Homo sapiens: one gene and its partner. The protein of the gene in region 1 purifies or fractionates together with the protein of each later gene. This does not show direct contact. Each region holds a gene or a part of one and is shown on either strand. Other genes may lie near its edges. The genes, in order: RNASET2 and PDIA5.

Region 1 (15,905 bases):
CCCGATGCTTCTGTTTGATGTTGATATTAACAGACATGTACAGAAGGTTAACACTATGATGAGCCAATTAGCCATCCCACACACAGACTTATTAGGACAATAATAAAAGCCAAATGATGAGGACATCTGGTTTACTTCAAGCTAGTGAAGACAAGTCATAAGTCATCATCTTAATCTAGTCCAGGTAAACAATTTTGTGGTTTAACTAGCTTCCCAAGCCAAAATCAGCTCCAAGAGTAAAAGTAAATTACTTTAATGACTAACTATATTTTGAGGAAGGAACAAGATAGCCTTTAGACTAAATAGACTCTACTTTTTAATTTGTGGCCAAATGCTTGAAAGAGATTAAAGGAAAATGCAAAGATATGTCAATATAAGAAAACAAAATAAAATAACAAAATAAGAAAACCCTTTTATTCCTAAATTTGATTTATAAATGTCAATATGGACTCATGATATATTTTCTTTTAAAAAAACATAAATCAAGGCCGGGCACAGTGGCTCACGCCTGTAATCGCAGCACTTTGGGAGGCCAAGGCAGGTGGATCACCTGAGGTCAGGAGTTCAAGACCAGCCTGACCAATATGGTGAAACCCTGTCTCCACTAAAAATACAAAAAAATTAGCCAGACATGGTGGCACACACTTGTAAGTCCAGCTGTTTGGGAGGCTGAGGCAGGAGAATCACTTGAACCTGGGAGGCAGAAGTTGCAGTGAGCTGAGATCACGCCACTGCACTCCAGCCTGGGTAACAGAGTGAGACTCCATCTCAAAAAAAAAAAAAAAGAAAGAAAGAAAAAAAGAAAGAAAAAGAAAAAAAACCATAAATAGAACAAATGAGCAAACAAAATTTATTTCCTAGCTCTATCTGCTGAAAAGTGTTAGAAACAAGGACCAACCCAGGGGCAATAAGCAACCCTTGGGCCAGGACTATGACCTCTAAATACAAATTTCAACTAAAAAGAGCCAGGGTTCCCTTTAACAAAATAAGGCAGGAGTAGCAATATGTGTATTAACTGATATGGAATTTGAGGCCAAATGTATGACAGTACAAAACAGGACTTTAATGACAAAAAGATGAATTTTATAAAGAAAATCAAAAGAAATTGTATCAAGAAAAATAAAATGTTATAAAGAATGTCATGGCCAGGCACAGTGACTCATGCTTGTGATCCTTTGGGAGGCTGAGGTGGGTGGATTGCTTCAGCTCAGGAGTTTGAGACCAGCCTGGACAACAAAGTGAGATCCTATCTTTATTTTTTTTGAAAGGCACAGAGTGCAAGTTGGATTGAAAAAACAAGACCTATCCGAGTGCTGACTTCAAAAGACTCATCTCATACATAATGACACCCATAGGCTCAAAGTAAAGGATTGGATAAATATTTATTATGCAAATGGAAAACAAAACAAAAAAAAGAGCCAGAGTCACTATTCTTATATCAGATAAAATAGACTTTAAACCAACAAAAGTAGAAAAGGACAAAGAAGGGCATTAAATAATGATAAAGATTTCAGTTAAACAAGAAGACTTAACTATCCTAAATATATATGCACCCAACATTGGAGCACCCAGATTCATAAAACAAGTACTTCTAGACCTATGAAAAGACCTAGACAGCCATAAAATAGTAGCGGAGGTTTTCGACACCCCATTAGAAAGGTCATTGAGGCAGAAAACTAACAAAGAAATTCTGGACTTAAATTGGACACAACCAGCTGGACCTAATTGACACCTACAGAACACTCCACTGATCAACCACTCTTCTCATCTGCACACAGAACATACATCAAGATTGATCACTAGCTTAGCCATAAAGCAAGTCTCAATAAATTCAAAAAATCAAGATCATACCAACCACAATCTTGGGCCACGGTGGAATAAAATAGAAATCAATACCAAGAAGATCTCTGAAAACCACACAATTACATGGAAATTAAAAAACTTACTCCTGAATGACTTTTGAGCAAACAATAAAGTTAAGGCAGAAATTAAAAAATTATTTTAAATAAATGAAAACAAAGATACAACATACCAAAATCTCTGGGATGCAGCAAAAGCAGTGTTAAGAGGAAAGTTTATAGCACTTAACGCCTACCTCAAAAAGTTAGAAAGATCTCAAATTAACCATCTAATATAATTCCTAGAAGAACTAGAAAAACAACAACAAACTAAACCTAAAACTAACAGAATAAAATAAGTAACTAAAATCAGAGCAGAACTAAACCAAATTGAGATGCAAAAATCCATACACAGAATCAACAAAACCAATAACTGGTTATTTGAAAAGATAAACAAGACTGGCAGACCACTAGCTAGAGTAACAAAGAAAACGAGAGAGACAAAAGATCCAAATAAGCACAATGAGAAATGACAAAGGCAATATTGCAACCAATACCACAGAAATACAAAAGGTCCTCAGAGACTATTATCAACACCTCTATGTGCACAAACTAGAAAATCTAGAGGAAATGGATACATTTCTGGAAGCACACAACCTCCCAAGATTGAATCAGGAAGAAATTGAAACCCTGAACAGAACAATATCAAGTTCCAAACTTGAATCAGTAATAAAAAACCTACCAAACAAAAAAAGCCCTGGTCCAGATGGATGCACAGCTGAATTCTACCAGATGTTCAAAGAAGAGCTAGTACCAATCCTAGCTCTTCGATTGATTCTTGGAATCATTTTTGGAAATGATTCCAAAAAATCAAGCAGGAGAAACTCCTCCCTAATTCATCCTACAAAGCCAGAATCACCCTAATACCAAAACCTGGCAAAGACACAACAAAAAAAGAGAAAATCACAGGCTAATATCCCTGATGAACACAGACAGAAAAATCCTCAACAAAATACTAGCAAACCAAATCCAGCAGCAACATACACAAATCAACAAATGTAATGCATCACATAAACAGAACTAAAGACAAAAACCATATGATCATCTCAATAGACATGGGAAAAGCTTTCAGTAAAATCCAACATCCTTTCATGATAAAAGCCCTCAGCAAACTAGGCCTCAAAGGAACATATTTCAAAATAATAAGAGCCATCTATGACAAACTGATAGCCAACATACCAAATGGGGAAAAGCCAGAAGCATTCCGCCTGAGAACCAGAACAAGACAAAGATGCCCACTGTCACCTCTCCTATTTAACGTAGTCTTGGAAGGGCTAGCCAGAGCAATCAGTCAAGAGAAATAAAAGGCATCAAAACAGGAAAAGAAGAAATCAAACTATCTCTCTTCACTGATAATATGATTCTATACCTAGAGAACCATAAAGACTCTATCAAAAGGCTCCTGGAATGATAAATGACTTCAGTGAAGTTTCAGGATACAAAATCAAGACACAAAAATTAGTAGCATTTCTATCTACCAATAATGTACAAACTGAGAGCCAAATCAAGAATGCAATTCCAGGGCCAGGTGTGGTGGCTCACACCTGTAATCTCAGCACTTTGGGAGGCTGAGGTGGCCAGATCACTTGAGGTGAGGAGTTCGAGACCAGCCTGGCCAACATGACGAAAATCTGTCTCTGCTAAAAATACATTAGCCTGGTGTAGTGCCGGGCACCTGTAATCCCAGCTACTCAGGAGGTTGAGGTGAGAGGATGGCTTGAGTCCAGGAGGTGGAGGCTGCAGTGAGCTGAGATGGTGCAACTGCACTCAAGCCTGGGCAACAGAGTAAGACTCTGTCTCAAAAAAATAAAAAAAAATAAGCCAGTCGCAGTGGCTCACACCTGTAATCCCAGCCCTTTGGGAGGCCGAGGCGGGCGGATCACCTGAGGTCAGGAGTTCGAGACTGGCCTGGTCAACATGGTGAAACCCCATCTCTACTAAAAAGTACAAAAATTAGCCAGGCATCGTGGTGGGCGCCTGTAATCCCAGCTACTCAGGAGGCTGAGGCAGGATAATTGCTTGAACTTGGGAGGCAGAGGTTGCAGTGAGCCAAGATCGCACCACTGCACTCCAGCCTGGGCAACAAGAACATGACTCCATCTCAAAAAAAAAAAAAAAAAAAAAGCAATTCCATTTATGATGGCCACAAAAACAATAAAATATCCAGGAATACATCTAACCAAGGAGGTGAAAGATCTCTACAGGGCAAACTGTAAAACTCTGCTGAAAGAAATCATAGATGAGACTGGGCGTGATGGCTCATTCCTGTAATCCCAGCACTTTGGGAGGCCAAGATGGGCAGATCACGAGGTCAAGAGATCGATACCATCCTGGCCAACATGGTGAAATCCTGACTCTACTAAAAATGCAAAAATTAGCTGGGCATGGTGGTGCACACATGTAGTCCCAGCTATTCAGAAGGCTAATGCAGGAGAATCGCTTGAACCTGGGAGGCAGAGGTTGCAGTGAGCTGAGATTGCACCACTGCACTCCAGCCTGGTGACAGAGCGAGACTCCATCTCAAAAAAAAAAAAAAAAAAGGAATCATAGATGACACAAAGAGTAAAGCATTTGATGCTCATGGATTGGAAGAATCAATATTGTTAAAATGGTCATACTGCCCAAAGTAATCTATAGACTTAATGCTATTCTTATCAAACTGCCAACATCATTTTTTCACAGAATTAGAAAAAAACTATCCTAAAATTCATATGGAACCTAAAGGAGCCTGAGTAGCTAAAGCAATCCTAAGCAAAAAGAACAAAGCTAGATATATCATACTATCCAACTTCAAACAATACTATAAGTCTACAGTAGGCTGGGCTCGGTGGCTCATGCCTGTAATCCCAGCACTTTGGGAGGCTGACTTGGGCGGATCACGAGGTCAAGAGATCTAGACCATCTGGCCAACATGGTGAAACTCCGTCTCTACCAAAAATATAAAAAATCAGCCAGGTGTGGTGGCACGCACCTGTAGTCCCAGTTACTCAGGAGGCTGAGGCAGGAGAATCCTCAGCTTCAGGAGGCTGAGGCAGGAGGCGGAGGTTGCAGTGAACCAAGATTGCACCACTGCACTCCAGCCTGGGCCACAGAGTAAGATTTCATCTCAAAAGAAAAAAAAAAGACTACAGTAAACAAAACAGCATGGTACTGGTACAAAAATAGACACACAGACCAATGGAACAGAGTAGAGAACCCAGAAATGAAGCAGCATACCACATACTTACAGTCATCTGATCTTCCACAAAGTTGACAAAAATAAGCAATAGGAAAAGGACTCCCTATTCGAAAAATAGTGCTGGGATAGCTGGCTAACCATATGCAGAAGAATGAAACTAGACTCCTATCTTTCACCAAAAGTTAACTCAAGATGGTTTAAGGATTTAAAAGACCTCATACTATAAGAATCCTGGAAGAAAACCCAGGACTCACCATTCTGGACAATGACCTTTGGAAAGAATTTATGACCAAGTCCTCAAAAGCAATTGCAGCAAAAATGAAAGTTGATAAGTGAGATCTAATTAAACTAAAGAGCTTCTGCACAGCAAAAGAAACTATCAACAGAGTGAACAATCTACAGAATGGGAGAAAATATTTGCAAACTCTGCCTCTGGCAAAGGTCTAATATCCAGGATCTACCATAAAATTAAATAATTTAACAAACAAAAACCAAATAATCTCATTAAAAAGTGGGCAAAAGACATGAATAGACACTTCTCAAAAGAAGAGATACAAACAGCCAACAAACATATGAAAAAATGCTCAATATCAGTGATTGTTAGGGAAATGCAAATCAAAACCAGAACACCAACCAGAATGGCTATTATTAAAAAGTCAAAAACCCCAGCTATGGCAACATGGTGAGGCCTTCATCTCTATACAAAAAAACTTTTGTTTTTTTTTGAGATGGAGTTTCGCTCTTGTTGCCCAGGCTGGAGTGCAGTGGCATGATCTAGGCTCACCACAACCTCCGCCTCCCGGGTTCAAGCGATTCTCCTGAATCAGCCTCCCAAGTAGCTGGGATTACAGGCACACACCACCATGCCCAGCTAATTTTGTATTTTTAGTAGAGATGGGCTTTCTCCAGGTTGGTCAGGCTGGTCTCGAACTCCCAAACTCAGGTGATCTGCCCGCCTCGGCCTCCCAAAGTGCTGGGATTACAGGCATGAGCCACCTCGCCCAGCCTACAAAAAATTTTAAAAAATTAGCCAGGCGCTGTGGTGTGTACCTGTGGTTCCAGCTACTCGGGAGGCCGAGGTAGGATAATTACTTGAGTACAGGAGGTCAAGGCTACAGTGAGCAATGTTCACGACATTACACTGCAGCCTGGGTGACAAAGTGAGACCCTGTTTAAAAAAAAAAAAACAACTCAAAAAACAACAGATGTTGGCAAGGCTGTGGAGAAAAAGGAACATTTCTACACTGTTGGTGGGAATGTAAATTAGTTCAGCTACCGTGGAAAGCAGTTTGGAGACTTCTCAATGAATTTTAAAAAGAACTACCATGGTCAGGCGCGGTGACTCACGCCTGTAATCCCAGCACTTTGGGAGGCTGAGGCGGGTGGATCACCTGAGGTCAGCAGTTCGAGACCAGCCTGACCAACATGGTGAAACCCCATCTCTACTAAAAAATACAAAAATTAGCCGGGCATGGTGGCGGGTGCCTGTAATCCCAGCTACTCGGGAGGCTGAGGCATGAGAATCGCTTCAACCTGGGAGGCGGAGGTTGCAGTGAGCCGAGATCATGCCGTTGCACTCCAGACTGGGCGACAGAGCAAGACTTCATCTCAAAACAAACAAACAACAAAAAAAACTACCATTTCACCCAGGAAAAATCCCATTACTGGCCATCTATCCAAAAGAAAACAAATCATTCTACCAAAAAGACACATGTACTCTCACGTTCATCACAGCGCTATTCACAATAGCAAAGACATGGAATCAACTTAGGTGCCCATCCATGGTAGGCTGGACAAAGAAAGTGTGGTATGTATATACCATAGAATACTACACAGCCATAATGAAAGAATGAAATCATGTCCTTTGCAGCAACACGGATGCAGCTGGATTATTCTAAGCAAATTAATGCAAGAACAGAAAACCAAATACCATACCACATGTTCTCACTTAAAAGTGGGAGCTAGGCTGGGCACGGTGGCTCACGCCTGTAATCCCAGCACTTTGGGAGGCCAAGGCAGGTGGATCACTTGAGGTCAGGAGTTTGAGACCAGCCTGACCAATATGGTGAAACCCCATCTCTACTAAAAATACAAAAATTAGCTAGGCAGCCGGGCATGGTATTTCACACCTGTAATCCCAGCACTTTGGGAGGCCGAGGCGGGAGGATCACGAAGTCAGGAGATCGAGGCCATCCTGGCTAACACGGTGAAACCCTGTCTCTACTAAAAATACAAAAAATTAGCTGGGCATGGTGGCAGGTGCCTGTAGTCCCAGCTACTCGGGAGGCTGAGGCAGGAGAATGGCGTGAACCCGGGAGGCGGAGCTTGCAGTGAGCCGAGATCGCACCACTGCACTCCAGCCTGGGCAACAGAACGAGACTCCGTCTCAAAAAAAAAAAAAAAAAAAAAAATTAGCTAGGCATGGTGGCCCTCGCCTGTAATCTCAGTTTACTCAGGAGGATATGACAGGAGAATTGTTTGAATCCAGGAGGCGGAGGTTGCAGTGAGCGGAGATCAGGCCACTGTACTCCAGCCTGGGCGACAGAGCAAGACTCCAATGTCAAAAAATAAACAAATAAGTAAGTGGGAGCTAAACCCTGGTTACCCATGGATGACAAGATGGCAACAGTAGACAGTGGGGACTATTACAGAAGGGAGGTAGGGAGCAGAGCAAGAGTTGAAAAACTAACTATACGATACTAGGCTCACTACCCAGGTGACAGGATGAACATACCCCCAATCTCAGCATCACGCAGTATACCCGTGTAACCAACCTGCACATGTACCCCCACATTTAAAATAAAAGTTGAAATTATTTTTTTAAAAAATACTTATTAAATATCTATTAAATTGTTGTTGTTGTTGTTTTGAGAGGGAGTCCAGGCTGGAGTGCAATGGCGCCATCTCGGCTCACTGCAACCTCCGCCTCCTGGGTTTAAGCGATTCTCCTGCCTCAGCCTCCCAAGTAGGTGGGATTACAGGCACCTGGCACCACGCCTGGCTAATTTTTTTTTTTATTTTTAGTAGAGACTGGGTTTAACCATGTTGGTAGGGCTGGTCTTGACCTCCTGACCTCAGGTGATCAGCCTGCCTCAGCCTCCCAAAGTGCTGGGATTACAGGTGTGAGCCACCGAGCCCAGCCAAAATTAACTGTTAATGTAATATTAAACTATTATTTGTAATGCAGAAGGGCTTATCTAAAGTAAAGCAGCTCAGTTATGTAGTAAAATCTCAGAAGTCTAAAATGCCTTGCTTATCTTTTTAAGATAAATAATTGTAAGACAGCTCAAGTAAGCAGCCTAATATCCACGTGTATAGGAGTATGTGTGTGCATGTGTGTGTATGTGTGTGCATGTGAGTGTGTGTGTAAGCTCATGGGTTTTTTTCTTTTCCTTTTTCAGAGTAAATATGCTTTGAAAATTTGACATCCATGATTAAATGTAATATATTGCTTTGCTTCACATTTCATAATAGCATGCTATTTGATCTGATTTATTCTTATTGTCTAGTTCCAGAAAGTTTTTTCCCTCTGGTTCCATCAGTTAAGTCACACTTGAAGAACAAATTATATTGTGAGAAACACATGACTGGTCTTTTCTGTTTCTCTCCTGTCCTCCTTTTGTCATGGCCACAGCTCAGAATAAAAGAGTTCCACAAAATGTGTACCACAGTGGCCAGGCTGGCATGGCAAGGCCAGAGGTGCTGGGACACCCTGACCAACATGGTCAAACTCCGTCTCTACTAAAAACACAAAAATTAGCCGGACGTGGTGGCACACGCCTGTAATCCCAGCTACTCGGGAGGCTAGGGCAGGAGAATTGTTTGAGCCTGGGAGACGGAGGTTGCTGTGAGCCGAGATTGTGCCACTGACTGCACTCCAGCCTGGCTGACAGAGTGAGACTCTGTCTCAAAAAAAAAAAAAGAAAAAGAAAAAGAAGAGAAAGGGCAGGGAAACACCCAGCAGCTGGCCTCACTTTCTCAGCAAATAAGTAATTCAGGATGGAAAGGAGTTTTTAAGGTGAGATTCTTTCAAGTGTGACAAAGCTCTTTAGAGCATGAGAATCCTAAACTGTGTAGTTGTGCCACTGCTCTGCCATTGGAATGGCCAGCACCAGATATGGGCTGTTCCTACCGCCTGGGTTCCAGAGTGAAAAATACCGTGGACCACAGTGGCATCTGACGCATAGCCAGCATGGAATATGGGCAAATGAATGATAAATGATCAACTTCCGTTTAAGTGAGACACTGAGATTTGGGGGCGGTGTATTATTGTAGCATAACCCAGCAAAAGCTGGCATGGAAACAGGAAACCTGGAGCTAATGCCAAGAAGAGGTTGTGTGGTGAAAGTATCTTGGTCTCTTCAGAATTAACAAGGATTTAAGGATGTCTGTTCATAGACATGGCTGTTGCCATCCTGTCCCCCTCCCCTCTCCTAAGGACATGTTTCTATACAAGCCAGCAGCATCTTTTAAACCTCATAGTTTGTACCCTTTTACACTATGTTGTGTGAGTCAATGTAATTCCCACTCTGGCCCCTGCCCACCTGCTTGATGCTGGAGCCCTCTTTGTTTTCGTAAAGCTGGGCGGCTTCCAGACCCAAATCCAGCCTTTACAGCCACTGCCTCTTCCCTACGTAGGGTTCCGTTTAGGATCCTGGTAGGTGGACAAGTAGTGAACAAGACAGATGACAGATGCTCCAGGTTCACATCCAAGTTTTGGGGGGTTGAGAGCTTTTCCATTTGGATGTCCTTCTTTAAGAACAAGAAGGTAAAATTGTGAATACGGAATGAGATATGGGGTCTTGGTGGGGCCCATGCCAGCAAGGGGCCTGAAGCTCCTCATTAGCTTCCGATGTGGGGGTGGGGGAGTAGAAGTGGGCAGTACAGGAGGAAGTGACAAGAATTCTCAGGGGTGGGGAGAACTGTGTCGAAAATAAACAAGGAAGTGCAACAGGAAATGACTGGGTGGCTTCTTCAGGCTGGGTAGGACGCTGCTGAATTTATCTGATAAAAATCTCCTCTCTGTGAGTTGTGGAAAGTGGCTTGCTGCGAGAGACCCCCTTCTTCCCCACATAACATAGGTAAGAGTGATAGAAGTGATGCAGCTGGGCGCTGTCTCCAAAAAAAAAAAAAAAAAAAGGAAAAGTGACGGATGCTCCCCTCACTCCACCCCCTACCCATTACCTAGGACAAAGCCAGACACAGATCCTCCAATTCCCATTCTTCACCTCATCAATGATGAGCCAGTCAATAGAAATAACACACTTGTTAAGCAAACTTGGTGAGGCTCCTCTCTTCCCCCGAGGCTGAGGACTTTTGGCCTCATCTTAGCCTGAGTCAGTCCCCCCTGAGAACAGGCTGGCCACGGGGTCAACCTTCTCTGATCTAATGTCCTATGAAGGCAGGTTCTCATCCCACTTCTCCATTCCCAGTTCATTCTTTCTCTCTCTTTCTTTTTCTCTCTTTCTTCTTTCTTTCATTCATTCTTTTTGTTGTTGTTGTTGACCGAGTCTCACTCTGTCGCCCAGGCTGGAGTGCAGTGGCGCGATCTCGGCTCACTGCAACCTCTGCCTCCTGGGTTCAAGCGATTCTCCTGCCTCAGCCTCCAGAGTAGCTGGGATTGAGGGAAGAGAGAGACCCTCTCATATTGTTTTATATTGTTTTATACTCAGTACCTGTTTTAAGAAAAAAACAAGGAAGTGAAATCAAAGACAGGCAGCCCGGCGCCAGGCCCAAAACCGGACCTGGGCCTGCCTGGCCTAAACCTAGTAGTTAAAAATCAACTCATGACTTAGAGACCGATGTTATTCATAGATTCCAGACATTGTATAGAAGAACATTGTGAAACTCCCTGCCCTGTTCTGTTTCTCTCTGACCACCAGTGCATGCAGCCCGTCACGTACCCCTTGCTTGCTCAAATCAATCACGACCCTTTCATGTGAAATCTTTAATGTTGTGAGCCCTTAAAAGGGACAGAAATTGTGCATTCGGGGAGCTCGGATTTTAAGGCAGTAGCTTGCCGATGCTCCCAGCTGAATAAAGCCCTTCCTTCTATAGCTCGGTGTCTGAGAGGTTTTGTCTGCCGCTCCTCCTGCCACAGGATTACAGTCGCGTGCCACCCCCGCCCAGCAAATTTTTGTATTTTTAGTAGGGACAAAAGGCCCCCAGGCCCCTGCAATAATGGTCCTCATAACACCACTCCTCCCCGAGTCCAGATTTGCTTTATATTTGGCAGTGGTCACAACAGCCCTCCTTGACAAGGGGCTGTTTAAACACACCGGACTGTGATTTAAAGGAAAATGAGGATTCTGGGAAGCACTTTTGTTTTAAGAAAATTATTTTTTTAGCTTAAAAGAAAAGAGAAAAAGAACTGTGGCGTGTGCCTATATTCTTGAGAGGAAGGAATGAAAGGAGCCGGAAAGAAACAAATAAGTCGTTAGGGAAAAGGAGAACGAGAATAACACCATGACCTGTAGGAGGTCCTGGAGGAGCTAAGGAGGTGTCAGCCATTTTCCCCCCCCATCTGTTCCACAGGTGGCATTTTATTGAGCACCGACTGTCCCCCATCCACTGTGCTCAGTGGCAGGGACTCAAGGTGGGCAAAATAGACATGGGCCTTGCCTTGCAGTCTAGTGGGAAAAACAGATTAATCATTTAAATATTTTGTTTCAAAGAATGGTAATGCATGCAGGCAAGGTCCAGGCCTGTGGGAGAGCAGGCTACAGGCCCACCTGCTATTTAGACAGTTACCAGTGGCAGAGGACCCCGAGGAAGGCGCAGTTTACTCGACGTGTAAATAGGAATAGCCTTAACTAGCTGTGGGTGTGCGGACAGGGAAGGGAAAGAGGAGAAACATCTGCAGAGACAATGCCGGGTGCACAGCCCGTGGGCGGGGCCGCGGGTGCAGGGGAACCCGTGCCTCTGAAGGGCTGGGAAGGCCAGGGTGTTGGGGGAGGAGACCGGGCCTATGGGACTGGCCCTGGCTACGCCAAGGTGGGGCTGACATGAAGTCCCCTTCATCCGTGGGGGGTGGCCCGTCCCTCTGGGAGGGGATCCCTCACAAGATGACTTCCCAGGTCGCGCCCCGAGGCGGCTCTTTGCTGCCCCCACAGAGATGACTTCCGGGCTCCTGGGGCCCGCGGGGAGGGGCAGGTGAGGCCCAGGGCTGGGTGAGGGCCAGGCCCTTCTAGGAATGTTGGTGCTCCCAGCACCTAGCACCGGGAGACTGGAGAGGTTTCCAGGAGAGTGACCCGAGTAGGTCCCCTCCTAATTCTGGAGCCGTCCCTCGGGCTGCGCAGTGGAGCGCCGAGGTGGCGGGAGGCTGCGGGGAGCCTGGGCGGCCAAGCACCATCTGCAGTCAGGAGCTCCCGGGCAGCTTGCAGGGCGCAGTTTTTGAAAGCGGGTGCTGCGTGCGGACCGCGGGCCTGCAGGGTGCGCGGGTCGGGCTGGGGGCTGTCCCTGGAGAGTAGAGTGGCCCTGGGGCCCGCACGCCCACTTGCTGGCGGGGGATGGCGCAGACACGGGCGGTCCCCCCGAGGGCGGTCCTCACGGGTGGTCTAGGTTAGCTCGGACCCGGGAGTGTGGGAGTGGCGCAGAGCTGCGGGAAAAGGCGCGGGGCGCCTGCGTGGCGAAGGAACACAGCCGCCTGACACGCCCTCAAGGCCCGCGGAGCTGCTCCTGCCTCGGCCTCTCTGAGCCAACCACGGGGCGGGGCGTGAACGCCGGGCGGGGACGTGCCGTTCTGGGGGGCGTGTCCACCGGCGGGGGCGTGCCGTCCTGGGGGCGTGGCTCTCTGCTCCGGTGCAGGCCCGCAGGGCGCCCTGGGCTGGGAGCAACGCGACTGACCGTGGTCGTGGGCGGACGGCGGCTGCAGCGTGGAGGAGCTGGGGTCGCTGTGGGTCGCGAAGCAGAGCCCGGGACGTGCGCGCTTGGTGCACGATCCTGAAGGGGAGCTCCGAGGGGCCCGGGTCGCCAGGGCTGCTGCGGCCATTCCCGGAGCCCGGCGCGGGGCCCGCGAGATACTGGTTTAGGCCGTCCCAGGGCTCCGGGCGCACCCGGTGGCCGCTGCTGCAGCGGAGGGAGCGCGGCGGCGCGGGGGCTCGGAGACAGCGTTTCTCCCGGAAGTCTTCCTCGGGCAGCAGGTGGGAAGTGGGAGCCGGAGCGGCAGCTGGCAGCGTTCTCTCCGCAGGTCGGCACCATGCGCCCTGCAGCCCTGCGCGGGGCCCTGCTGGGCTGCCTCTGCCTGGCGTTGCTTTGCCTGGGCGGTGCGGACAAGCGCCTGCGGTGAGTTACCTTGCGAGGTAAAGTGGGGAGCGTGGGAGCCGGGCCCTAGAGCTTTCCACTGGGTGAAGGCTGCAGCTCTCGGGGTCGGCGGTCGCTGAGCCCCGGGCAGCGACTGGGGAGGGCGGGGGGAGCCGAGCACGCTCCGGGGTGACCCCTGGGAAGAAGTTGGGAAGTTGAGCACGCCTCGGGGTGACCCCTGGAGGGAGTGGGTTGGGGGGAGCCCTTAGCACACTCAGAAGTGACCTCTGGGAAGGAGTGCGATGAGGGGAGTCCTGAGCACGCCCCGGGGTGACCTCTGGGAAGGAGTGGGTTGGGGGGAGCCCTGGGCACGCTCTGGGGTGACTCCTGGGAAGAAGTGGGTTGGGGAGCCCTGAACACTCCCCGGGGTGACCCCTGGGAAGGAGTAGGGGGTAGGGTGAGGTCCTGGGTACACTCCAGCCTGGAGCTGGACTGGAAACTCATCCCACAGACTGCTCCCAGCCTAGGACGCGACAAAGCAGGTGGCAGGCTTGGTGGAGCACTGTTCCTGCACTCGAAGTTCTCTCAGAGGTCGAAGAAGTCGTGGAGGGGACACTTAATTTCAGCTTTCACTGCGGCGGGTGGTGAAACGACGGTTCTTCCTCTTTTTGAGTATCCTGTTCTGAATCCCTTCCCTTGGCTCGCCCTCCGCGTGTGTGTGTGTGTGCGCGTGTGTGTGTGCGCGTGTGTGTGTGTGCGTGTGCGTTTGTGTGTGCGTGTGTGTGTGCGTGCGTGTGCGTGTGCGTGCGTGCGTGTGTGTGCGTGTGTGTCGTGTGTGCGCGTCTGTGCGTGTGTGTCGTGTGTGCGCGTGTGTGTGTGTGCGTGTGTGCGTGTGTGTGCGTGCGTGCGTGTGTGCGCGTGTGTGCGTGCGTGTGTGCGTGCGTGTGTGCGTGTGTGTGTGTGGCAGCCGCCCAAATTAATTAGGGGTAAACAGGCGGTGCTGCAAAGAACTCCAACTTTAATTCTGTGGAAGATACCAATATTTGAATACCATATTATTTCTTTCTATTTGGGTAATGATCGGGTTAATAGGATTTCTTACTTACATAGTAGGTGTGGAAAAGGTGGGTTTTACTTATTTATTTTTTTTTAGACAGTCTTACTCTGTCACTCAGGCTGGAGTACAGTGGCGTGACCTCAGCTCACTGCAACCTCCACCTCCCGGGTTCAAGCGATTCTCCTGCCTCAGCCTCTGAGTAGGTGGGATTACAGATGCACACCACCACGCCTGGCTAATTTTTGTATTTTTAATAGCCAGGCTGGTCTCGAACTTCTGACCTCAGGTGATCCGCCCGCCTCGGCCTCCCAAAGTGCTGGGATTACAGGCGTGAGCCACTGCACCCGGCCAGGGTTTTACTTTTTAAACACCTTAGGTATATATTTTTAATCATGTACATTAAAATGTAGCATTATATTTCAGTGTTCCGGAAAGTGTATTTTCTGAAAAAGAGCTACATTTATGTCCTTATTTATTGGCCATGAGGTTCAGAGCCTCTCACTGGGGAAGTCTGTGGCATGCTGGCCCTTGCTGGCTGAGTGGAAACTGCTAGTTCACACCCAGGTGTGGGACCTTTGAGCTCTCTATGCCCCAGTTTCCTCATCTGTAAAGTAGAAATAGTAACAGTCAGCCTCACAGAGTTGGCTTCAGGAGAAATCAGTTAAGGTACAGAATGTAACTTGGAATGATGTCTGGCTGGAAGTAAACATTAGCATAAAACAGGCTGTCATATGTGGATCCCCCACCCCAGCCCATAATTCATGCAACTGATATGATCGGACAAACTTGAGCAGGCAAGATTTGCGAGAACATGGTTGATTCAGACCACGAGGGCTTCATAGGTCAGCGGGCATTTTCCCAAGTTCTAACTGGTTTTGAGACCTTGGTGATTTTTCTTTCTTCTTTGACTTTCTTTAGCTTCTCCATTACTTTCTCCGTGAATAGGGGAGGGGGGCATCTGTGTGGGAGGGGGTCTCCTGCAGTCACATCACTCTGCCTGGTTTTAGATGGAGAGTTTGTTACAAACGTCTGAGTCTTGGTAGTTTTGTTGTAAGCATATTGATAGTCTCATCTTCCTGGGTGTTGCTAAGCTTTCCAGCCTCAGGTTCCGACTATGTAAAATAAGGTTTTTCACCCAAGGGTAAAAAATGCTTTACCAGCTCCAATTCTCACCCTGCAGCTCATCCTTTTTTTTTTTTTTTGAGACAGGGTCTGGCTGTGTAGCCCAGGTTGGAGTGCAGTGATGTGATCTGGGCTCACTGCATCTTCCACCTCCTGGGCTTAAGCTATCCTCTTGCCTCAGCGCCTTCCAAGTAGCTGGGACTACAGGTTCATGCCACCACACCTGGCTAATTTTTGTAGAGACAGGGTTTCACCATGTTGCCCAGGCTGGTCTTGAACTCCTGAGCTCAAGCAATCCTCCTGCCTCTGCCTCCCAAAGTGCTGGGATTATAGGTGTGAGCCACCACGCTTGAACCCTTTTTTCCTTTTATACTGAGAGCTTGCATAATTAGTTCCAATGTACAACTAA
Region 2 (15,471 bases), on another chromosome or scaffold:
TGTTTTCCACCCGGTGCATTTCCCCCTGAGCGTTGTTCCTGCTTCTGTTCTCCTCTTTCTGAATCCCCACAATGGAAACAATGCCCCTGACAAGTGTCATATTCCTTCCTTCATGCCACTGATGGTGTTCGCACTGAGGTGGCAGGTCCTGAGGAGAGGTGCCTCTTATCTTCTGAGGGCAGATTCGGCGGGCTCGCGCTGCAGGCTGGCCTCGAAACAGCTCCTTTTCTCCTGCCAGGACTGATGGCAGAACTTAAGCCCAGGGTTCGCGTACTGGGGTGTGTGTGAGTCCATCTGTCAGACAGGAATGTCAGGAGGGGGCTGTGGGGCAGTTTTGGAGCCTCATGGCCAAATGTCCTGTGTCTGCATCTTGTCCGGTAGGCTTGGTGCTGGGGAGGTTCTGGTGGCCCAGAAGGAATGTTGGCCTTCTGGCTTCACGGCCTGTCTAGGCGTCAGCTAAGCATGGATTGGAGCTGGGCTGCCTGTCGCCACATGGACCCTGTGCCCGCTGTGCCAAGCTGAGATCAGCCTGACACATGGTTCCAGGCAGCTTTGGTTCTGTGCTCTTCAGATGCATCTTAAGCCCTGTTTTGTAGCAGAGAGGCAGTCGGAAAGGGTAATAGCCTGGCACTTCAGAATCCCTGCTGTCTGAGGAAACTGCTCATGTCCTGTGGGATCAGTGCTGAAATGTGGTCTGCTCTGGTTTAAGGGAAGGAGTTTAAGGTCACTCTAAAGTTTTAGTGGATGTTTGGGACCTGGCCTTCCTGGTCGCTTGAGTCCAGGAGTTCAAGGCCCCCTATCAAGGCTGTGGGTCTTCACCACTAGGAGAGGAGTGTGACCATGGTAGACCACAGAGCCCCGGAGGGCTGAGCCAAGGCCATCGCAGACAGAATCCTTTGCTGTCAGAGCTGGAAGGGGCCTTAGGTTGTGTGGTCCAGCCTCTCTCATCTGCCAGAAGAAACAGCCCAGAGAGAGGAGGTGACTTCTCCAAGGCCTTTAGAAAGTTGAGTGAAGATCAGAGTCCGCATGGCATCCCGATTCCTGGCCTGACGCTCTTCCCACAGGCCAGAGCCAGCACTGTTCACCATCAGCCTGCCTCTGGTCATTGCTTAATTATCCTTGTTAATGAAAGAGAAAGGAGGCATGGACATCCCAAAAGTGATCGTATTCGTGGTCACACATTTTTCTTCATAATGGCATTTGACTCCAGCTCATTTGCAGGCCCTGCCTGGGCAGTGAGGGGTGGCCTTTTGCTGTGCGTGCAGCAGTTGCTCTCTTGACACCTGTTCTGGTTTTCTGAATCTCTGTTGAATTCATTATCAGTGCTGAAGTATTCTGGGCTCTGCTCTTCTCCCATCATGTCATGTTTGTTTCTTTAGTCCAACATTTATGAGTGGCTGCTGGGCAGTGCCTTGTTTTGCACCACTGATACAGTAAGCTCTTTGGGGGCTGAGACGCCCACCTCCTGTTCCTTTTGTGTCCCCAGGGTCTGGAATAGTCCTGAGCTTCTCAAGGCTGGATAAGTGCTTGTTGGGTAGAGGATGGCCATGGGGAGGCAGGGCAGGGTGCAAGGGCTCAGCCATCCCTGTAACCGGATGTGGTCTCTCTCCTGCCTGTGACCAGGGTGCAGCATGTGCAAGAGGATGATGCCGCATTTCCAGAAGGCTGCGACTCAGCTGCGAGGCCACGCCGTAAGTGAGGCGCCATTGCCTGGCAGGGCTGGGTCACTCTTGGACTTGGCGGAGGAAGGGTGCCAGGGGTGGGGTGGGGACAGGTTTTGAAATGGTGAGGATGACTGACCCTGCTGCCTGGGCCGTTGCTGAATCGCAGCCTTGCATGGAGCTCAGAGACCTGTTCTCTGTGAAGGTTGAGAACTCCACCAAGTTGCTGGGACCAGGAGAGTTTGACACCTGCCAAAGGCCAGTGATGAAATAGGACACCAGCAAGATGCACATGTGGCATTGTCAGGGGGCCAGGGACCAAGGTCGGAACATCGTGGGTCCAGAATTTTGAGGGCTGGGCTCTGAAGTGAGCTGAGGCAGCTGCTATGGAGCCCAGTGGCAAAGAAGAGGGTGTGATGACCTTAGGGGTGGACCAGAAGCATAAAGGGGGCTCACAGAGGCAAAGGCCTGTCCCGGCTTCCCAGGCTCTGTGGTTCCTGTGGGGCGGGAAGAACGGTGGGAACCAGAGGAGGAGGAGGTGGGGCTGGATGGGGAGCGAAAGACCTGGGAATGCAGGCATTCTCCCAGAAGGAGTGTAGGGAAGGATAGGCAGAATGGAGACACATGTGTCCTAGGGATGCCCACCTCTACAGGAGGAGGAAGAGGAGCCACTAAGGAAATGGGCCTTCAGAGAAGTAGGAGCAGCTGGGATGGGGCGGGGAGGTAGGAGGGGAGCCTGGAGTGTTGTGGGGGAGAAGAGAGCTGGGAGGGGGGATGGACCTCACACAGAAGGGCCGAGGGTCAGTCACCAAATGCTCCCTGGTACCTCTGTGTTCCCCCACCCTGCCAGGTTTTTTTGTTCTCTGCCTTGTGTCTATTATTTTTTCAATGTGGTAAAAAACACATAACATTACATTGACTATCTTAGCCATTTGTAAATGTACAGTTCAGTAGCATTAAGTATATTTACACTGTTGTGCAACCTTTCTCTAGAACTTTTTCATTTTGCAAAACTGAAATTCTGTACCCACTAAATATGAATTCTGCCTTCCCACCCCACTCCTGACCTTGATAAACTGCCTTTCTACTTTCTGTTTCTATGATTTTATATATATATATATATATATATATTCTGTTTTAGAGACAGGGTCTCACTATGTTGCCCAGGTTGGACTTGAGCTCCTGAGCTCAACCGATCTTCCCGTCTTAGCCTCCTGAATAGCTGGGACTTCAGATGTATGCCATCTAGCCAGGCCCATTTCTATGATTTTGACTATTTTAAGTTACTCCTATGAGTGGAATCTATAGTATTTGTCCTTCTGTGACTGGCTTATTTTGCTTAGCATTATATCCTCAAGTTTCATCCATGTAGCATGTCATAGGATTTCCTTCTTTTTTTAGGGCTGAATTATATTCCACCCTATGTACATACCACATTTTCTTCATACACTCATCTGTTGATGAGTTGCTTCTAGCTTTCTTGGCTGTTGCTCATAATGCTGCAATGAACATGGGTGTGCAAATACCTCTTTGGGATCCTGCTTCTAATTCTTTTGGATATCTGTTTATCCATTTTTGCACTTACCCCGAGTAGCAGAAGTGTCTTGATGGCAACATAAAAACAGCTGCCGGCTCCTCTAGGGAGCGTGGAAAAATCCATCCATCTTTCATGAAAGGTTATCAAGAGGAGCCATCTCAATAGTGTGGCCAAAGCCCCATTAAGGGAGACCTGAGGTCCTGAAACTGCATCATGATCTTTGTGGATCAAATTAAGTGGTGATTAGCTCAAAGTCAACTTAAAAAGTTTAAGTGGCAGCACCTGGGCATGGAGACGGCCCTGCTCGCCAAGCTGCAAGATGGGGCTGCAGAGAGCCAATGCTTTCTCTTTTGACCTCATTCTGGGGTGACACTGAGGTCCTGCTTGCTTCTCACTAATGAATTTTTAGTAACTTGCCTGGAGACATTGGCCTTGGGGCACACATACATCACCCCAGGGAAGTTTCACTTCACATTATTGGGACCTCAATAGACACCATATTTTGAGATTATTTAGCCTGGAGAAAAGACTTAATTACCCACAGTATTCTCTCTGCCTGCACCCGCATACACTTAGAAATCTGCTCAGCTCAACTTCCCGAATTCTGTGCTGTGGAAGGTAAGCAGCTCAGCCCCAAATCAGATCACAAGTTATTCCAGCCAGACCCACTGAAGCAGAAGAGAACTTGATGCCAGTCTCAGTGCATCTCGTGGGCCATTCTCAGCCAATGCTGCATCCACTGCCAAACTCAGTATTCTTCTAGGCCCCATCCCACGCTGCCACAGAGCTCATCCCTGTCACGCACAGCCAGATACGTTCATCTTTGCTTTTGTTCCAGATCACTTTGTTCAGCACTTGATACTAATTATGATATGTGAGTTTCTTGGGCACAGGAGTTGTGTTCATGTCTATTTCTTTAGCACATAGCACAGGGCTAAGCTCACAGTAGATATCCAGTATATGCCGATGAATGAATAGGGTTTTTGCTCATCACTCCTGGGGGTATGTTTTATTTTAAGCTCTATATTAAAAGTGATGGTCCTCTCTTTTAAAGGAATTCAGAGCATTTGTTATTAAGGCCGGAAGCATAGTGGGAAGGACATTTGTGGGACAGGTTATAAGGTTAACTGCAAAGACCACTCGTGTTCAGAATATAAGCTTCCAGCAGGGCATGGTGGTTCATGCCTGTAATCCCAGTGCTTTGGGAGGCCAAAGTGGGAGGATCACTTGAGGCCAGGAGCTAGATACCAGCCTGGGCAACATAGTGAAACCCCATGTCTACAAAAAATTTTAAAAATTAGCTGGGTGCAATGGCATACACCTGTAGTCAATGCTAGCTACTTGGGAGGCTGAGGTGGGAGGATCACTTGAGCCCAGGAGTTTAAGGCTGCAGGGAGCTATGATTGCACCATGCTCTGCACAACAGAGTGAGATCCTGTCTCTAAAAAAAAGAAAAAATGAATTCCAGCTTCTTCTGCCTGGGCCCAGGTCTAGAAATATAAAAGTTACCCATTCCAGTTCCCTCAACATTACAGAAAAGTCAGGGGCGTTGTCTGCAAAGCTGGGCAAGTCAAGCTGTGACCAGGTGTTGGCTGCCTTGGCCTAAGACATCTGGGTTGTGTAAACTCATTTCTTTGTTTGTATATTTTCTTGCTTGGGGTTTGTTTTGTTCTATTTTCCCTTTCATTTCCTAGAAAAGCATCTTCTGGAAAGTTCTAGCCCTTTCCCAGCTACATAAAGAGGGAAGGGCCCTGGCCGCTGCACGCATCACCCACGCAGGAGGCCCCTAGAGGCTAGGGCTTACTCTGCAGGGGCAGCTCCCCAGAAACTGGGGACCTGGCTGGAGGGGTTGAGTGACCACAGGTGTCAATTGCTTTTTGTCTTCACACACAGAAAAGAGGTGGGACTAATAAATGGGCTGCTATTCCCCAGAAATCAAAGTTCACCCCCTCCTCGCTGCTGAAACACAGCTGGATTAGGGCCTTCTGTCACTTCTTCATCTCTGTCATCTTTGAGCCTTTTTGGCTGGGTCTGTCTCTGGCAAGGGTCAAAAATCTTCCTCCTCTACAGATTTTTTGGGAGGTGTTCAACCTGATTGACATCATTAGGAAGGAAGGCATGCCAGGTCAGGGATGCACAGCCTTTGCCATTTCCAAACTTACAGCTGCCTCTTTTGTGCTGTCATTGACGTCTGGTGACTCATCGCGTCTGTCCCATCTACTCCTGCTAATTGACATCCTCATTAGCAGCCACGCTGCCCCCATCTCAGAGCAGCCATCAGAATGAGCCCTGTCTCCATCTGCCTCTTCCCAGCCTTGCCAGTTATTGACATCTGCACTGAGCCTTTGAGCTTTGCCTAGTCTTTGGTGGACCTCGGCCATGATGGGCCAGTCTGGGTATAAACACCATGAAATAGAACCATCATGACGACAGATTTGTACAGACCAGGCTCTAGTGCTGGCTCTTGCTAACCAGCTGGGAGATCTTGGTCCAAGCTCCTTAGCCTTGGAGCCTCCATTTCTCCATCTGTAAAATGGAGATGATAATGCCAACCCTGCCCACACTGGGTTGTGGTGAGGAACAAATGGGCTGTGTGGAAGAAGCCCTGTACCCCACAGAGCACTCATAGACACAGATGACTGATCCCCTCTCTTCCCTACAGCTGCCCTGCACCACATTCCTTCCACCGGCTAGATGGGGGTGCTCCCAAGGTTCCGCTTTCCTGTTAACACATTGGAGCAAGGTTTTGTCTTATTACAGTCTACCTTCCAGTGACCACATCTCTGTCCATAGCTTCAACAAAACGTAGCTCCATGGAGCCCAAGTCCTTCCCCTAAGTGCCAGTGCCACGTGTCAGATGGCTTGCTTCACAGCTCCATCTGGATTTTTTCCCTTGTGTCTCAAATGCATGTCTGAAAATTCAGTATCTTTCCATCTGGCAGACTGTGAACTTTGCATTAAGTCCTTTCCCCAGGGGCCAGGCTCTTTCCCCACCCCCCACCTCCACCTCTCTTTACTGAGGCATCATCAGGCATCTTCCTCATGCACCCTTCATCCTCTCCCTGCCCACCAGCCCTGTCCAGTGGGCTATGCTAGCTGGTGGCCAAAGGCTGCTGACTTGTCTCCTGACCACAGCATTCCCTCATAGCTCGTCCTTTCTGCTTCGAGAGATACAACTGGTTTGAGGGTTGCTTTCTTACTTAGAAACCCTCGGGAGCTCTCCGTCACTTCCTGAATACAGTCCCGATTTCTTAGGTATTTCAAGCCTTTCCCAAAGTGATCCTGGCCAACTCACTCAGCCTTTTCTTTCATGTCTTCTCCTTTCTGTGTATCCTGCCTTCCAGTTAGATGGAAATGTGCTCCATTTCTTGGGCCACATCTTTCTTTGCCTTGCCTCCAGTTCCCCATCCCGGGACGTCTGTTGAAATCTTACTCTCCTCTGAGTGCAAGCTCACATGCAGCCCACGCTAAGAAGCTGCCGTGATGGTTCCTGGCAGCAGGGCTGAACACACAGAAGAGCATGTCACGCCAGCTGAGTGGCCCCAAGCATGCAGATGGCAGTGGGGAGCAGGGAGGCTGTGTTCTTATCTTCTCCACAGGCCGAGACCAGGTGTGTCACCTCATTTGACTTCACAAATTCTAACTCCAGAAAGTGTTTGTATGTAGTTTTTCAAAAATTTTTGCCTCATTAACTAATAGATGCCCCCAAAATGGCACAAAAGTGCTACAGAAACTTGGAGAATTAAGAGCTCACCCCAAGCGAAGGTGGTTTGCAAAGGCTGCCCAGAGACGTGAGGTTTGATTTGCCTTAAGGGATGGGTGAGTCTGGAGGGTCGCCAGGAGGCGGGGGATGGGCAGCCTCAGTAAGGGGACTGGAAGGCACCAAGTGGGGGCCAGGAGAGAACAGCGAGTGTTCCAGAAGTGTGGGCAGAAATAGAGCACCTCCTAGTCCTAGTAACAAAAATAGCTAATACATTTTGTGTTATTGATTATCTTGTATTATTTCATTGAATCTTCTCAACAACCACATGAGGTGGCTGCAGATGAGGAAAGTGAGACGCAGAGACAACTGTGACTCATTCAAGGAAATGCGCGACCCCATGGGGAGTTGGGACTCAAACCCAGGCATCCTGAGTCCATGCTTCCAGCCACTGCATGTTGCTGCTGCACTCAGCAAGATGTCTGAGAAGGCAGACAGTCCAACTTCCTTCCTGTGCAGAAATCTCAGACTGTCTTATTCCTGGGAGAATAAAAAATCTAGACCCTAACAGGTGTACAATGAAGAGTTTTGTAAGAAAGAAAGATTCAAAAATGAAATAGGTAACATATGGGCATTGAATGTGGAGCTGGATTTTAGCCTATATTCAATGGAATTGGAAGGTTTTGTGCAGGGAAGTGATGTAATGAGCGAGGAGGACGTGTAAGATTAATCTGTGGTGAATGTGCACTGACACTGGGGAGATCAATTAGGCAGAAAAAAAAAGGACTTTTAAAGAAGACAAATATTACTGGAACAGGCCGCTGGAGCAGTCTGGGAAATGAGCAGAATGACTTTTATAGAGCGTTCCAGGGCTTCAAGTAAATTCGAATTCAAATTTATTCTTCCTGTATTATTTGCTGCATCCTAAAATGGGCTAGGAAAAAAAAAACAGTGAATTTAGTGAGCATTTATTGTGTCCTTGCTGTATGTGAGGCCTTGTGCTAGGGACTTAAAACAATTGGAAAGATATCCAGGTGCCCCTAGGAATGGAGAGGCCAGAGGCACAGTGGCTCCCATCACCAGGAAGACTTGGTAGGAAGATGACAGTTACTGAGCTCCAGTTTTGTGCTAAAACCTCTCATCTCATTTAGTTCTCTAAAGAGCCCTTTGATGGTCACATCTTCCAGCAAGGGACCTCAGTGAGGGTGAGTGACTTGCCCAAGGTCACATGACTCATAAGTGGAAGCTGTCTTTGCAATCAATTTATTGTCCACTGAAACGGTTATTTATTTTCCTCTCTCTCTGTGTCCTTATGTATTATTCAGTAAAGTTCAGCTTCCTGGGTTTCTTCTCTCTGCTTCTGTAACTACTGCTGGCTTTTTTTACTTACTTTTCCCTCGCTTCTATGCCACTCTGCTTTGTGGAACAACCTTTGTGTGTCGGGCCATTCTAGCTGTGTTCTCTGGTAAGAACAGATTCAAAGTCCTGGCTGGGCATGCTGGCTCATGCCTGTAATTCCAGTGCTTTGGGAGGTTGAAGTGGGAGGATCGCTTGAGCCCAGGAGTTGGAAGCCAGCCTGGGCAACACAGCAAGACCTCATCTCTACCAAAAAGAAAAATATACTAGCCGGACATACTGCCACATGTCTGTGGTCCCAGCTAATCAGGAGGCTGACAGCGGAGGATTGCTTGAGCCCAGGAGTTAGAGGGTGCAGTGAGCTATGATCATGCCACTGCAGAGGGAGTTTTAGGGGATTCCTTATATGAGTCAGTCTTAGTATTTAGCTACATCGTCGGTTACCCAGCTACTAAAATACTCTTTCTGATTCAGGGATAGTGGACATGTGGACCCCTGGAGCCAGAATATGTTCAGAATTCTGAGATGATGATCCAGCCAGGCTGTGGGTAATGGTCACCAACAGGAGGAAACACTGGGGAGACACAGCACGGCCTGGAAGGAGGAGAGTTAGGCAGGTGCCTCGTTTCTCATGTTGTGTTATGAGAACCACACGGCCTCCCTGGCCACATATAAGCTGTGAGGTTTGGAAACGTCACACTCAAGCCTAGGTGAGCAAACCGTGAGGTATCCAGGAAGGTGTCTAAGGACGTTGTACAGAGCTGAATTGGTGTATGAAAGCCACTTATTTCCATAGCCTAGGAAAGAGTACAACCCGAGTTGACATGAACAGAGAAATAGGCGTAACACATCCTTGGCAGTGGCCCCTCTCTGAGAGTAATGTGAACTTGATGGCAAGGCCCGGCTTCTTCTGCAACCCTCAGAACGTTGGTTTTGCTCTGGGGTGGTTCTTCCTGCAGGGAGGCAGAGGGAGCAGGCGTGCGGAGTGCAGCACTCGGCCCAGCTGCCTGACTTCTCCAGCGCCAGGTCATGATTCCCGGCTGGCTTCGCTGGCCTTGTTTCTCAGCAGCCCTGATGCACATCAGTCTGTGGGGCTTTGTCCCATATGTCTTTCTGGTGGGACAGCAGCTGGACAGATGGCGTGTGGACTAGAGGGTGTCTGTGGGGCACAGGCTCCACACGGCTCTTCTCCGCTTCCTCCCAGGTGCTGGCCGGGATGAATGTCTACTCCTCTGAATTTGAAAACATCAAGGAGGAGTACAGCGTGCGCGGCTTCCCCACCATCTGCTATTTTGAGTACGTCCCCCACTTTCCTTCTAAAGCTCACCTCCCTCCCTGGTGATTGACCATAATCTCAGGGTGGCATTTGCATCCGTGACTGAGCCCACGTTGTTTCTCCACGTTTCACAGGAAAGGACGGTTCTTGTTCCAGTATGACAACTATGGGTCCACAGCTGAGGACATTGTGGAGTGGCTGAAGAAGTAAGTGGGGTGTGTGTGTGTCAGTGGGCGTGGACCCAGAGGGCGGGGCATCTGCCGGGCCTGAGGGTCGCAGGGCTCTGGCTGGAGGTTGGGGGAAAGAATGAGGAAGGGAATTGTGGTACTGCCTACACAGCTGTCTCTGGCTTGAGTCTAGGCCACTGTGGGGATTGTGGGAATTTAGGTTGCAGGAGCCATGAGGATTTGGTGTGACTTTGGCCTGTGATGATCAGACCTGCCTGGGTGTTGGGTGTGGAGTCTGTCTCCCCTACCTCCCGTCTCCACGGGTTGGAACTGGGGAGGGGCTGCCTAAGCCTGTCAGCTCTTCTGGAATAGTCAGGGCCTTTCTGAATTCTTCCCACATTTCACATCAAGTTTCTCCTCAACACATCTATCTGATGGATAGAGGTATTTCTCACCCAGGCTACCAGGTTTGAGAGAGGTTCCACTGCAGGTCTCTCTGAAAATAGAATTGTCAGTTGAACACTTATTTCAAACACAGCACTGTCTTAGGTGCTGTGAAGGTACTAAGAAATATTCTAATGCCTTAGGTTTGCTGAGTGCTTTACTGTTCAACCCCCACAGGCATTGCTTCATTGCAACCTGTGATCCCTGTTTTATAACATGATTAGATCCTTGTAATGCCAAACCCCACCACCCTGTTGGCTCCTGCCTCCTTACCTGGAGCCTCCACTGTGCTAGGCCTGCTGCTTTGTCCTGCCAGATCACCCCATTCCCACTTCTCACCAGCACTTCCACGACAGGCTCACGATGTCCCCTTCTGGAAGCCTCCCCAGGCCACCCTCGCTGAGCACGCACCCTACTCAGGCTGCGCTCTGTGTGTCACGAGTTTGGCACTTACCAGCCACTGCTGCTTCATGAGTATTTGTGCATATGTGCTGGAGTAACAACAGCCAACATCTTTTGGGCTCTCCTTTGTGGCTGACATTGTTCTAAGCACTTTACATGGATTCTCATTTAATCCTCACAACAGCACTGTAAGGAAGATGTTACCGTTCTCTTCATTTTATGAATGAGGTCCCTGAGGCACAGTAAAGGGGTGGTGCCGGTAAGCAGTAGCAGGGCCCTGATGGGTCCCCGCCACCAACCCAGCTCCCTGCAGCCCCGACAGTCCAACTTAGCCTCCTCAAGTTCTGCTCGGAGCCCCTCCCCTCAGCTGCCGGCACAGTGGACATTTATTGACATCATTACCTTAGGAACACAGTGTGCAAACCCCAGGGTTAAAGAATTAGTTATCCAAGATATGGAGGTTGAAAATGTGTATTTTCAAAATGGGAAAGAAGGGTGGGTTTTGTACCAGGAAAAAAATGCACATGAAACTAACTGTTAGATTTCTAAAGGTGGAGAGTCTCCATCTTCTGTTCTGCCTACTCTCGGGAGATAAGGCACAAGTGCTAGCACATGTTTGCATCATGTCTTTTATTTCTTGGAAGCATTCTCACATCTCTGTCCCCATCGGCTACCTCATTTCCAGCCCCTGCCTGGGAAGGCTGCTGCCCATTATCATGTGTTCATTGTCTTAACCTGGGCCTTTGCTTTCCTGTTTTCCTTTTTCATTTGATAATAAGCGTGTCCTCTCCTCTATCCAGACACATCTCATTCTGCTTTGGGAGAAGGTCTCAACAAATAGCAATCTCATTTGTCACTAGAGCATAAAATCTGTCTGCTTCCCTTCCCTTCTCTAACCTTTTCTGATTTCAAAACACCCTCATATCTTTTTTGGAAGGATAAGGTTTATGTGGTTTTTTTTAAGTATTCAGAATTACCTGCTAACCCTAGACAAAGGGAGCACATCAATGGTGTTTCTGAAACAGGCTATTATCTCCCCGCTGGAGCCTCCTACTCCATCCTCCCACCCCTCTCCTCTCGGCACACCCCATCCCGGCTCCCCCACCCGCATTGCTCCGGCTGGCCTGCACCCCACAGCTGCCTCCAGTCTCTGGTCCTGGGTACCCCATCCCCACTTCCTACTTCCCCCCATCCCCCGCTGTGGGAGAGAAGGAGCTCTTGTTAACGGCCTTATCCTCTGCAAGAGCTAGTAATGTCATTCTGCTACCAGCTGGCTTAATTTTTTAAAGTCTTTTCTGATTTCAGAGATACTCAACTAAGATAGGCTTATTATAGAAAAACCTAAAAGTGTGGTTAAACAAAAAGTCCTCCCCCACCCTATTACCCAAAGATAGCATATTGTTATTATTTCCCCTACATAGATCTAGCTCTGCATGTGGGTTTTCCCGGTCCCACATGGATTAAGCCTTTTCCAGTTTCCCCTCACATCCTTTTGGGCAGTAGTGACCTCATCTTTCCTGCTTCTCTAGGTTTCTCCATTGGCTCTTAGCTGCTCAGGGCTTCTGTGCAGCCAAGTATACAAAGATGAGGGTGAAGCCAGCCTAGCTAATTCTCCAAATGGCTCTCAAATGCCTAGGAGAGAAGACCTAGGTCCTGCCCTTCAATGCGTGACTCTGGTGGTTGGACCAGGGAAGGGTGGCACCAGGTGAGGCAGGGCAGGGAGTCAGCCCCTGGCATCTGAGTGTATGAGGGCTCTGGAGTAGATGTGTTGATCGTGGCACTGGTGTCTTTTGTGTTCCTAATGGCCACGTATCTCATTGGCCACTTGAAGCTGTCACTGGTGAGTTGGGCTAGCAGACAGGTGGAGGGGTACATAAGCAGTGATCCATTTTGGGCAGGGTCATTTTGGCCTGTGTAGCTTTATGCCAACCAGAAGTGAACTGAATTAGCAAACACCAAGTTTTCTGGACTCGTAATGCTTAGAGTTGCATCTTCTCATCTATGGCACATGCATCTCCCTTAGATGAGGTTCTGATTGTGTGACCCTCCCAGTCCTAGAGAGCCTGGAACAATTGCTCTCTCCAAACTGCAGAGCTCATGAAATCAGTCGCATGAAGGCAGATCAGAAGGGAACATACAAGTCATCAAATCTGCACCAGCAATTCTCCTTTCAATGTTTGCATTTCCTCACTCCCATTGGACTCATTCTGAGGTTCCCCATTCATGCTTGAATGACTCTTATGATTTAGGTGATAAATGATATCTAGGAGCATTTGGGTAGTACTTTATAAAGTTACAAAGCATCTCACATCCATTCTCGGCCTATATGAGCCTGAGAGCTAGGTGAAGAAAGGACCACAATGCACTATCTTGTCACTGTTTTAAGCTGTTTGATTGTGGCTAGTGGAGGAAACAGGACTCAAGTCAGGTCTTCTGACTCCCAGTTTGGCCTTCTTTCCCTCTCCTCTGCTGAAGACAGAACATTCTTATTTACACCGAACTGGAGTTTCTCTGGAGCTTCCACTTGTTAGTGTTGGTTCTCCTCTTCAGGGCCCTAGAAAATAAATCTTAATTTCTTTTCTTAATGCAGTTTGGAATATTTGATGATAGCCACTGTGCTCTCTTATGTCCTTTCTCCGAATTAAACACTTCCAGTTCCTTAAGCCATTTTTCCCTGAATGAGGGGAATGAGCCTTCCCTCATTCAAGGAATGCTCCTGTTCAACGAGCATGTATTGAGTGTCTGCTGTGTATTGGGTGCAGGAGTTAGTAAAGGGGTGAGGGAGAGCCCAGTCTTCAAGGAGCTCACGGCCTGGGGTAGGCGGGGAGTGAAAAGCATCATTCAGTGTTTTGGGTTCAGACTCTCACTCAGTCCCTCTCTTCCCAGTACATCCTCTTACCACGGTGCCCAGTTCTCCAGTCCTCTCCCAAAAAGAAACTTCCAGTCATCTCCTGGGTGGGAGAGGGGAGAGCCCTAGGATCTGAGGATCTGACCACTCCAGTGACCGCTAAACCCTGTTTTCAGCCACAGGCTATAGCTCTGCTTCAAGGAGTGGGCCCCTGGGCCCTTCAGAGCCTTGTCTTCTGTGTGCGTGTGGTTCTTGGGCCCCTACTCTGCTTTTTCTGACCAGAAAGTTTTTTGTTTTTTGTTTTGAAACTCCTGAACTGTTATTTTAGCAGTTTTAGAGTGTATTCGCCTCTGTGTTTAACTAGAAGTTCCTCCCGTTCTTTCCTTCCGGTGCCTGTACTCCTGCAAAATATAGCCTTCTCCATCCTATATTTGTGCACTTGCTTGACTTTTTAAAAATTTAGTTTTTGAGTCAATTACATTCACATAATTCAATTTATTTTTTATTTTTTATTTTTTTATTTTTTTAGATAAGGTCTTGCTCTGTCACCCAGGCCAGAGTGCAGAGGGTACCATCATAGCTCACTGCAGCTTTGAACTCCTGGACTCAAGCGATCCTCCCACCTCAGCCTCCTGAGTAGCTGGGACTACAGGCACAGGCCACCATGCCCGACTAATTTTTTTTATTTCATATTTTTGTAGAGATGGAGTCTCACTCTGTTGCCCAGGCTGGCAAAATTTTAAGGTGCTTAAAAAGAATACATTCAAAAGTCTCGCTTTCACTTCTTTCCTCCTTATCCTCCCTCCTATACCCTAGAATTTACAACTTAGACCAGTTTCTTTTATGTTCTTAGAGTGTTTCTGTATGTAGATATTAGCAAATGTGAATAAGTATATTTTATCTCCCCCCTTTTAATGCAAAAGTTAGCAAATTCTAGACTGTTCCATCCATCTCCAGCAGTTTGTCCACATCAGTGCATAGAGAACATCATTCTTTGCAGTGCTCAGCCCTCCCTCGTGTAGATGGACAGCAGTTTACCTAACCCGTCCTTCCAATTTTCGCTATGACAACCTGCAGTGAATGCCTTCAGATGCACATAATTTTGTATGTGTGCAGGTGTATTGTAAAGATAAATTGCTCTGAAGTGTAATTGGTGGTGTTTTGAGGGGTCAGTAGTTTGAGCCCAAGTATAGGAACCTAGATTGCATGATGTTTGTCTAGGACCATTGTCTGGCTGGTGACTCATTCTGAAGCTTGATTTTGTCACCAGTCCCATCTGACATTGGATATGCATGGACTGAGATTGATTTGCCCTCTCCCTGCCTCCTTCCATTTCTTGGGACCTGGGAGGCCATGGTGGCCAGTGGGGCCCAGTCAGAAGGGCCAGAGAGGGCTTCTGAAGGCGACATCATACCCGGCTGCGGAGGGAAGTGGGTGGCAGAGTTCCATTGTGTCAGCCACTTCACTCCCTCTGGATTTTCCAGCCCTGGCTGCTGGAACTTTAAAATATTTCCTCCTGTAGGCTCTCAAAAGTGCGACACAATGGTTGTCTTTTCACATTTGTCATCCTTGAGGGTTTTTTCAAAGCTGCAATTAAGGTGCTCTGGCAAAGGTAGTTGTGACAGTAAAGCAGCAGGGAGACTGTGTCACCACCAGCCACCTTGTCCTGAACTTTGGGGCAAGGGAGGGCCCCTGCGAGCCTCCCTCCTCCTAGCAGATGATGACCTAGGACTGGCACACAGTCACGCTGCGGAAACAGGCTCCAGAGAGGTCAGGCGGCTGCCTAAGGTTTTGCAGCTGATGAGTGGTAGAGTTGATTTGGCTTCTGGGAGAACTAAATAAGTTGGTTGTTGGCCTCTGGGAAGGATTAGTGATGTAGCATACACGCTGTCGTAGTTAGGATACCCCCAGCCTTACTTCCCTTGCTGCAACCTTCCCCTGCACCCCCATGTGGCAGCTTCCCCTTGCATGGCCTAGATCTGATCTTTCTGAGATACCTGGCCTCTCTCTCTCCTCCTCACCCCCTCCTCTCTGTACCCTCTTCCTCCCCTCCACTGCCCAGTGGGCAGTTTTAAACACA

Evidence for each region.
Region 2: the proteins of RNASET2 (region 1) and PDIA5 purify together in Homo sapiens (affinity purification with mass spectrometry; 3 studies listed by BioGRID and IntAct, with this or other methods). This does not show direct contact.

The regions. Positions count from the first base shown.
Region 1 is NC_000006.12:166,953,551-166,969,455, reverse strand, and holds the start of RNASET2 (ribonuclease T2 precursor), read left to right. Parts: upstream 1-12,905; 5' UTR 12,906-13,273; coding exon 13,274-13,359; intron 13,360-15,905.
Region 2 is NC_000003.12:123,114,608-123,130,078, forward strand, and holds part of PDIA5 (protein disulfide-isomerase A5 precursor), read left to right. Parts: intron 1-1,623; coding exon 1,624-1,691; intron 1,692-9,458; coding exon 9,459-9,550; intron 9,551-9,664; coding exon 9,665-9,736; intron 9,737-15,471.